Linked DNA regions of Homo sapiens: region 2 is reported to be linked to region 1. The links are microRNA targets in miRTarBase. Many come from high-throughput screens and were not tested one by one. Region 1 holds a microRNA gene; the other region holds the end of a gene's coding sequence.

Region 1 (5,414 bases):
ACCTATCTTTTCCTATTATGTATACTGATGTTTAAAATGCTAATTAGTATTCTTCTACAGTGAGAAGACAATTTCATTGCACATCATGTTACGTTTATTCCTGTGTATGTTGTTTCCTCTATCTACTGATATTTACAGAATTCTTAGGTTTTTTTTTAATATTAACACCTCCTAAATTATGATCTTCCACAAGCATAGTCCACATGCATAGAAGCACATATTAATAACTTCTTAATCAACTATCACACATCTACTATTGACTGTACAATAAAATCTAACCCACGTGGATATTGACCCATACTGTAAATCACAGTGCATACATTCGTTCATCGGACATAGCACATTTCAGTCAAGAAATCCCTCGTCAACATGTATATCCCCTATCAAATTTTGCTCTCTTAATCTACCAACCACTGAGAAATCATCATCCCTCTCAGGAGTGGCACCCTCCTGGTTCCAGGCCCATGACACTTGGGGGTGACTATACTGAAACCATACCTGGCATCTGGTTCTTACTTCAGGGCCATAGAATTAAGATCGCCCACACGTTCCCCTTAAATAAGACATTTCCATGGACTAATGACTACCACCCTATTAACCAGTCACAGGAGCACTGTCATGTCATGCATTTGGTACTTTTAACTTTGGGGGATGCTATCACTCACCTGGTCCCTGCCGAATCCGCAGTAGAGGAACTCGGATTTGATTCCTGCCAAATCAATTGTAGAAGCTAACCTTATATTCATATTCCAGGCTGGCATTATAACCAGAAGGTGTTACTTAATTCATGCTTGAAGGACATAACAATTAATAGACACGCAAGCCTGTACCGACGCTCACGCCCGTACCGACGCTCACGCCCGTACCGACGCTCACGCCCGTACCGACGCTCACGCCCGTACCGACGCTCACGCCCGTACCGACGCTCACGCCCGTACCGACGCTCACGCCCGTCGCATGCACTCTGAATTTCAAGAACTATTTCCGATTAAATCTGCAATACCCCCTCCCCGCATCTCTGACTTTACTATCAACCTAGCTAAATGTATCCTTGCCAAACCCCAAAAACAAAAGACTAAAATGCAGCCCAGTCAGAGCCCAGAAATCATATTTTAACCATGAACGCCTCAACAGCTACCCCTCGATTGATGTAATTTTTCTAAAAAATCTTAACACCCTCCTACTAAATTAATCCTCCACTTTGTATAATAAATATAATAACTAAATTTCTGCCCTAATACTAATATAATACCTTGAGCATATCCCCCGAAAGCATTGCCCCATATATCATCTCCTAAATCAATCATACTCTTGATTATGAGTGATCTTCTTAGCCAAACCTCTGCCAATTCAACTTTAAAGACCCTGAATTTCCAGAACTGTAAACGACTATTTTTATTTATTTATTTATTTCTCATATTTTAATATTTACACTTAAGAATTTATGCAGTTAATGTAGCTTAATTATTCAAAGCAAGACACTGAAAATGTCTAGATGGATCCGCACAACCCTATAAACAGAGAGGTTTGGTCCTGGCCTTTTTACTAGCTCTTAGTAAGATTACACATGTAAGCATCCCTGCCCCAGTGAAAATGCCCTCTAGGTCACCCGGATCAAAAGGAGCAGGTATCAAGCAAGCATGAATACAGCTCAAAACAACTTTGCTCAACCACACCCCCATGGGAAACGGCAGTGATAAATCTTTAGTAATAAACGAAAGTTTAACTAAGCTATACTAATATTTAGGATAGGTCAATTTCGTGCCAGTCACCGCGACCATATGATTAACCCGAGCTGACAGAACTCAGCGTAAAGAGTGTTTAATTAAGGTCTACCCTCAATAAAGCTAAACTCCAATTGAGTTGTAAAAAACTACAGCTGAAATAAAATATACTACGAAAGTGGCTTTAATACCCTGAAGACACAATAGCTAAAACCCAAACTGGGATTAGATACCCCACTATGCTTAGCCCTAAACTCTAATAGTTACATTGAGAAAACCATTCGCCAGAGTACTACAAGCAACAGCTTAAAACTCAAAGGACTTGGCGGTGCTTTATATCCCTCTAGAGGAGCCTGTTCTATAATTGATAAACCCCGATACAACCGCCTTGCCACCTCTTGCCCGCAGCCTATATACTGCCATCTTCAGCAAACCCTAAAAAAGTTACAGAGTAAGCACAAGTACACATATAAAAACATTAGGTCAAGGTACAGCCTATGAGGTGGCAAGAAATGGGCTACATTTTCTATATCCGGCAAATCTCACAACAACCTTTATGAAATCTAAGGGCTCAAGGAGGATTTAGTAGTAAACCAAGCGCAGAGTGCTTGGTTGAATAAGGCCATGAAGCATGCACACACCGCTCATCACCCTCCTCAAATATTACTCTAGAAATCACTATTACTAAAAACTTTCTATGCACATACAGAGGAGATAAGTTGTAACATGGTAAGCGTACTGGAAAGGGCGCTTGGACAAACCAAAGTGTAGCTTAACCCAAAGCATCCGGCTTACACCTGGAAGATTTCATCATGATCTGTTCACTTTGAGCCAACGCTAGCCCCAAACCTCGCTAAAAATATTATCAAACTATCTTAATCAAACCATTTACATTAAACGAAAGTATAGGTGATAGAAATTTTTACCCTGGTGTAGTAGACATAGTACCGTAAAAGAAAGGTGAAAGAACTATATAAAGCACTAAAAAGCAAAGACAAGCTCTTATACCTTCCGCATAATGTATTAACTAGAAGTAACTTTACACAGAGGATTATAGCCAAGTCCCCCAAAACCAGATGAGCTACCCAAGAACAACTGAAGAGTACACCCATCTATGTGGCAAAATAGTTGGGAGATTCATGACTAGCGGTGACAAGCCTACCAAGCCTGGTGATAGTTGGTTGTCCAACGTGGAATCTTAGTTCAACTTTAAACTTACCCACAGAATTATTTACTCTCCCTGTAAATTTAGCTGTTAGTCTAAGAGGGACAGCTCTGTAGACCCTAGGAAACGACGTTCCTACAGAGAGTAAAAAATACTACCACCATAGTTGGCCCAAACGCAGCCACCAATTAAGAAAGCATTTAAAGCTCAACATCTAACTATCTTCAATTCTAATCACTCTACTGAACTCCTAACATCATACTGGACTAATCAATTACTTAATAGAACCAATAATGTTAATATAAACATTCTCCATTGCATACGTTTACATCAGACTGGAATAACCCACTGACAGTTAACAACCTAATATTAATAAATGATATAATAAGCACCCTATTATTTACACTGTTAACCCAACTAAGGTATGCTCTAAGGAAAGATTGCAAAAAGTAAGAGGAACATGACAAATCTTACCCCACCTGTTTACCAAAAACATCACCTCTAGCATTACCAGTTTTAGAGTCACTGCCTGCCCGGTGACATATGTTCAACGGCCATGGTATCCTGACCGTGCAAAGGTAGCATAATCGCTTGTTCCCTAAATAGGGACTTGTATGAATGGACACACAAGGGTTCAGCTGTCTCTTACTTTTAATCAGTGAAATTGACCTATCTGTGAAGAGGCGGATATAAACAAATGAGACTAGAAAACCCTATGGAGCTTTAATTCATTAATGCAAATAAAAACCCAAACAAGTCTAGAGGCCCTGGCCTACTATCCCTGCATTAAAAATTTTGGTTGGGGTGAGCTCGGAGCATAGTTCAACCTCCGAACAACCTAAACTAAGACTGCAGTAGTCTAAGCGAGTTAGTACACATTGACCAAATAATTCAATCAACGGAATAAATTACCCTACGGATAAAAGTATTGACAATAGGGTTTACAACCTCGATGTTGGATGAGGACATCCTAATGGTGTAGCCGCTATTAAGGGTTCGTTTGTTTAACGGTTAAAGTTCTATGTGATCTGAGTTCAGACCTGAGTAATCCAGGTCAGTTTCTATCTATATAACATTTATCTTAGTATGAAAGGACAAGAGAAATAGGGCCCACTTCATAAAGTGCCCTCACTCCATATAGTCTTCCATGCAAAGAAAAATTCATATATTGTCAAAACCACTAAGATTACTAAAAAGTATTTTTCTCAATGTAGACATATGTATCAGAAAAACAGAAAAATGTTTACAGATAACATATAAGCAACAAAAATCTAGAAAACTAATCTTATTTATCATATATATATTTCTATATATACATGTAAGGTAGTTTACATCATGTAAATTACCCTTATTTCAAATTTACATGTACCATGTACATGTACAATACCCTGAAAGAGACTGTCATTAATGCTGGTCATGCCACAGCTGTATCATTTCAATGACCAGAAGCTTGCCTGGTCATCATGGAAGTAGTACACTTTTCATGACTTTATGTTATTTCAACTGTTGTTTTATCTCTATGTTTCTGTATGACATGTCTAGAATGGTACATATGCTCCTAGGGTATGATGTATTTTAAATCAAAACATTTATATAAAATCAATTTTAATTTAGATTTGAATAGTTTTCTGTTATCTATGACTTGTAGTTATACATGATTTTTTTCTCCCACATTACCCTTGCTATTGAGACTCTCATATTCGATCAATTGTATCAGCACCATTTAGTCCTTCCCCACTCTGGAGGTGCAGATTTTAAATATATGCTCAATTATTACATAACTAATAAAATTCATGGTATCATGTGTACCAATTTTTGCAAAAAGACATTTTGAAAGTAAGTCTATCATTCAAAAGTCATTGAAAACACATTTTAATGTCTAATTATGATAAAAAAATTCACACTTGCATTTGTTTTGAGAAATGAATCTGTTATTGTCAGCAATTTAATATGGCATACTGCAAGAAAGTTACTGCTTTCTGACAACATAAAAATTCATAGCTCTCATAAAGAAATGAGTCTGAAACATGGGAAATTTCCCATGCTAAGCATTTAACTTACAACATAGTCATAAAATTAATAATTATATTCCAATGAAGACAATGGCAAGCTTTTTAAGCTTGAATGTTGTTAAAAAGGACTATATTGGACAAATTACCATATAAACACTAGAGAATTCTAATATAGACCTGACAAAAATGGACCTTTATTATAATATAGACTATAATTTATTACCTAATATTTTTAAGGCAAATTGCTTTTGAAGTTTCCCAGTTCAGAACATTCACATGATTCACTAGAAATGCTTAAGTACATACAGAACTTGCCTTTATCCTTAAACTGGGCCAATAATTTCCTCATCATCAAGTGTGTTTGCTTGTGGAACAATGAATGTTACAGGGAGTCCAGTTGATAACACCTGCCCATTCAAGTCTTTGCTTATGAAAGAACAGGCATTTTCTTCACTCTTCCTAGTCTCTTTACCTTTACACTCATCATACAAGTCAGTTTAGTATACTCGTTGA
Region 2 (5,180 bases), not on the chromosome of region 1:
GAAGGAGCTGGGTCAGTGAATAAGAATGGGAAAGTACCCCAGTCAGCAAAGGTTCAGATATGTCACCAACCAAACGCAGTCCCTCTTGTTTTTGCTTTGAAGGTTGAATAGTCAGTCTTGGCTCTTATATTTAGCTTAATCACCAGTAAAACACCTTCATGATGAATGTATATAAGTTCACTAGGATTTCAAGCAACTATTTTCCAGGTATCTAGGACCCTCTTATATGATGTATCAGATAACTTGGGCCTACTTCAGTCTGGAGTTGGTTTTGTTCCCATGAGTTTCTTATGTGAATGTTTTGCTCTAATTCTGGCTCTCATAAAAAATCATCTCCCCTGAAGGGGAGACCCGGTGGTAGGAAATCCCAAGCACACCTTTTCTCCAGAACTATCAAGGGTCAGAATAGCCAAGAGTCATCAGTCACTTCCCCTGCTGACCCTCTGGGGAAATGCTACTAAGAAAACAGGGCCAGAAGGCAGAAGCTTAGCCACCAGAGGCCAACTCTAACAGACTGATGGTCCTTTACTTTGCCCATACTTTATAGCTATTTCAGGAAATAGTAAAGCATTCTAGTTAATAGATGAGATCTGGAACCAGCTAGTTTGGTTCTGAACTCTGGATTCACCGCTTACTTGCTGAGTGACTAGTGACCTTGGGCAACTTGTATAACCTTTCTGTGCTTCAATTTCCTTATCTGTGAAAGGGAATTGTAATGGCACCTACCTCGTAAGATTGTTGTGAGGATTCAACGAGATAATGTATTCAAAAGATATACAGCACTACACAGGAAAGAGTAAGTACTCAAGCTATTATTGTGTCTCTAGGAACCGGAGTTTATTGAAGGAGGAAGACCCTGCTGTGCTTATCTCTGAGGTCCTAAGGAGGAAGTTTGCTCTAAAGGAAGAAGATATCAGTAGAAAAGGAAATTGACAACCCTCAGCTCTGCAAACTCAGTCTCATGCTCCTGGAATACCTTCAATAGCTGCCTTCCTCACCGCAGATGTTTCTGCCTCTTAAGGATAGATCTTCTGCAACAGTCTTGCTGACAAGCTAGAGCTTGGACTGAAAGAGAAGAGCTGGATTATATATTTCCCAGACTTCAAACCCTAGCAGAAGCTAAGGCTTGTGATTTGACCTGAGACATTTGTTTCAGGTAATCGTGTAGAATGAAGTATCTTAGTTTAAAGGGTAAGAGAGAAGTTGTTTCTGGTTTTTCCTTGCCCCTGTGTGAAAATAGGTCCTAAATGACTGACTTCACTGCATTAGACCCTATAGCTGGTCTCACAAGACACTTTGTGCCCAGCTGTCACTCACTCAGCAGCTTCCTTGCAGCAGAGCAGGGCTGAGGGGAAGGGGCTATGAATGTTTGTATACATGTTCACAGGGCACGGAAAATCTTATGCTGCTCCGTCATAAACCTACACCAATGCCCAGCAATCACCCTCCTCACTTCCTTGTCTAGATGTAGAGGTCAGGCTGCTGAACCAGCCAACACATGGGCTACTGCTGGGAAGCCTGGGCTGTTTTTTTTCTTAAACACATTTTATATTACTGAACAACCAAATCTACCCTCCACGGCCCTGAGGCCTTATCAGTTCCACTGATTAAAAACTTTCTCTTCCACGGACTTTAAGCCCGGTAGGAAAGAGAGAGGAGGAGGGGGAAAGAGCAAACCATCTTTCTTCCAGGCCCTTGACTGCTCCTTTGGGCTGGGCCAAGGTTTGTATGTACCACACCATGCATGACTCAGATGCCCTCAGGTCCCTTTCTCTATGGTATGTATACTGCTTGTGTTTGGGTTGAAGCACTACCTGACATTAAAGGAAGGACTTGGAGAGAGAATGCATTTGCTGTGTCCATCTCTTGAGTTGCGATTACCCAGTATCCTTCAGGGGCATAGGATTATTGTTAATTTTAAGGTGTATGAACTTAAACAGGCTACTGGCTTCTCCTCTTTCCTTATAAGGTCCTGCCCTTCTAGGGGGTTTCTTCCCCCTTTCTGTAGAGATTTTGCCCTATACTCTTTTTCTTTTTTTTAGAAACAGTATCTAGCTCTGTCATGCCGGAGTGCAGTGGTGGGATCATTAGCTAACTGCAGCCTCCAAACTCCTGGGCTCAAGTGAGCCTCCCACCTTAGCCTCCTGAGTAGCTGGGACTACAGGTATGCACCACCACACCCAGGAAATTTTTAAATTTTTTTGTAGCGATGGGGTCTTGCTATGTTGCCCAGGCTGGTCTTAAACTCCTGGTCTCAAGCAAACCTCCCACCTCAGCCTCCCAGAGCGTTGAGATTACAGACATGAGCCACCGCACTAAGCCCCATACATTCTTAAAAGCAGGTCTTCCAGGAAAATGACTGGAGAGATGACATACACGATAAAAGTAGAATTTAACATTTAAATTAGGCCAGGCACAGTGGCTCACACCTCTAATCACAGCACTTTGGGAGTTCAAGATCAGCCTGGGCAACAAAGCAAGACCTCATCTCTACAAAATATTTTAAAAATAATTAGCTGGGCATGGTGGCATGTGCCTATAGTTCAGCTACTCGGGAGGCTGAGGTGGGAGAATCACTTGCGCCCAGGAGGTCCAGGCTGCAGTGAACCGTGTTCATGCCACCACACTCCAGCCTGGGCAAGAGAGCGAGACCGTGTCTCAAAAAAATAAAATTTAAGTTAAAAAAAAAAAAAGAAGCAGTTCTCTTATAACCTTGCAAGTTTGTCCCTTAGAGGTTGTTTAAGCCTCTTAGATACCACATCAACAACAAGGAATAATGCCTTGGGTAGAAGACAGGTCAAACTAGACTCTGGTTCAGATCAGGCTCAGGGCAATGACAGCATATACTATTACAGTGTTGCCTTTTCAAAAATAAAATTGGTAATGGTTTAATTACCAATTATCACAAGAGCCACTTTGTAAACATTTATTTGGATTCATAGTTTTACAAAGGGGATTCCCTCCTATCTTGTGGGAAAAGGGTAACAGAGTCACATCCAGATTGTTGTACAGCTCAGGCTTTTTAAGGGAGATATTTAAACATAGAGTATATAACTTTAAAGTGCTGTACAGTTACCACAAAAATAAAATAGGAAACTAGCACCATTCTACCTCTCTTCTCTCCACACCTGGGTTGTGGGGAGATTTGCTAATCACTGAAAAAAAAGGGTCAAGAGTAATCATCCCAAGCTTAGGCTGATGTGGGTTAAGATCAGCCAGAGATTAAAAGCTCACACATCTGGCTGGGCGCGGTGGCTTATGCCTGTAATCTCAGCACTTTGGGAGGCTGAGGTGGGCGGATCAGGAGGTCAGGAGATGGAGACCATCCTGGCTAATATGGTGAAACCTCGTCTCTACTAAAAATCCAAAAAAAATTAGCTGGGCGTGGTGGCGCATGCCTGTAGTCCCTGCTATTCGGGAGGCTGAGGCAGGAGAATCGCTTGAATCCGGGAGACAGAGGGTGCAGTGAGCTGAGGTCGCACCACTGCACTCCAGCCTGGCAACAGAGCGAGACTCCATCTCAAAAAAAAAAAAAAAAAAACACATCCATAAGCAAGGTCCCAGTCAGACATCTGGAAGGGCAAAGAGATGGCTCTGTGCAGGCTGAGTAAAAGGCACTTTCATAGAGATAAATACCCACTGTGCTGCCTCAGTGTTCATCATAGACTCATTCAGGGAATTTACCAGCCACCACCTTCCTGAGGGAAAGCCATGATGCCAATCCCACTGTCTTAACAATGGTACTGCCCTTTATTTACACAGAGAAGATGCTCAGTAATGACAACTTCATCCCATGCCACCTTCCCACCTAAACAAACTCACTCCTCTCTCCACCCACAACTATATTTTCCTACATCTCTATCATTTCAAGGTACTTTTAGAAACAAAGCTTCAAACATTTAGAATTGGTGTCTGATAACTTGATTACCTTCAGAGTCCTGGGTAAAGAGCAAATCAGGCTTCAGATTTTGAGTTGGCCCATCCTCCTGGCACTGAGCCCAAGGACTGTTAGGAAACGGCCCTAAGTCCCAATTCCAGTTATTGGTTACATCTTGAAAAGGAGCTCTAGTGTTGTGGGCAATGACCCGCTGGCCTTGAGAATCTTCAGTGAAAAGTTGACTCCAGGAGTCCTTGTCATTCTTTTCATTGTCCCAGGAAAACACAGAAACTGGACTACGGCTTTGTTTCACTGATTCTATGTTTTCTCCATTCCAGGATTCCCTGTATGTTTGAAGGAGGACAGGGGCCTGCCTGTTTTCTTTGGCAGACACCTTTCTTTCCAATTTAGTCTTGCCTAAGGGCTGACAGCATTTGTCCCCAGGTAGTTTGGTGTGTTTCTCCATACTCTGATAGTTCTTCTTAGACTCATGAAGCCATTCCCATTTCCTGGCAGAATCCCCTTTTTCTTCCTTTCGGTCTAGCAAACAAGAACTTTCCAAGTCCTCGGTGAAGGAAAAAGCCAGTGGGGTATGACTATCTCCAGCACAGTCTGGAGTATCAGGCTGGAGCAAAGATAGCTCAGTTGAAAATGGGGTTTTCATTCTGTGGTGGCCAGAAGTCTGGAGGGACTGAGGAGAGAGTCCAGCTTCCTGGATGTCTGCAGTGGTTGAAGTGGCTAAAGGGGATGCCATGCAATCGTGTGCTAAGCCTGGGATCAAATGGTCTAGCTGGGTCGCATTTTTCTTGGACTCTTTGTTGATCTGACTTTCTGTATGAGATGAAACACTCTTCTGGTCACTGCCATTTGTCTTTCCTAATAAAACAGGAATGAACAAATATTATTCTGCAGAAAAACTGCCCTAAGCAGGATTCAGTTGGCTTTTTCTGAAATCAGTATCAGCTACTATTACTACCTAGTGCAGGAGTCTTAAGACTCTTCACATAACTTTGTAGCCAATCTTCCTGTTTTCAATCTTGCCAGTCTATCATGAATAAACTCTAAAACATCAGATCTTATATTCCCTACTCAAATACATGGATACTTCCCATCACCTACCTAATAAAGTCAAACATCGCATACGATCAGACCATAGCCTACTTTACCAGCTGAGTTTTCATTTGTAGGTTTGTTTAACATACGGCACATCAGTTTTGCTTTTGTTTTTTATTTAATGTGGTTTTTTACTAAATGGTGATCCTGGTCAAATATACATTCCTAGACATTATCCTTAAAGAAACAT

What was found. The annotated mature microRNA hsa-miR-1973 reads ACCGUGCAAAGGUAGCAUA and lies in region 1 at 3,457-3,475, shown strand. An mRNA with a match to its seed (bases 2 to 7 or 8) in the 3' UTR can be bound and repressed. Matches are read on the target gene's strand: a 7mer-m8 pairs with bases 2 to 8, a 7mer-A1 pairs with bases 2 to 7 and ends in A, and an 8mer does both.
Region 2: the mRNA of MTFR1L is a reported target of hsa-miR-1973. Seed matches in the 3' UTR shown: 7mer-A1 at 1,389-1,395.

The regions. Positions count from the first base shown.
Region 1 is chr4:116,296,294-116,301,707 of GRCh38, forward strand. MIR1973 (microRNA 1973) reads left to right here and starts at 3,432; the gene lies at 3,432-3,475. It overlaps LOC105377383 (a long non-coding RNA gene), which reads right to left and starts at 885. Exons shown (of 2, transcript XR_939096.3): 1 at 666-885. It also overlaps the pseudogene MTRNR2L13.
Region 2 is chr1:25,831,094-25,836,273 of GRCh38, forward strand. It overlaps MTFR1L (mitochondrial fission regulator 1 like), which reads left to right. Exons shown (of 7, transcript NM_001099625.2): 7 at 828-1,845. The coding sequence ends at 933. It overlaps AUNIP (aurora kinase A and ninein interacting protein), which reads right to left. Exons shown (of 3, transcript NM_024037.3): 3 at 2,913-4,753. The coding sequence ends at 3,900. Among named protein-coding and RNA genes, the nearest start is that of MTFR1L, 14 kb to the left of the region's middle.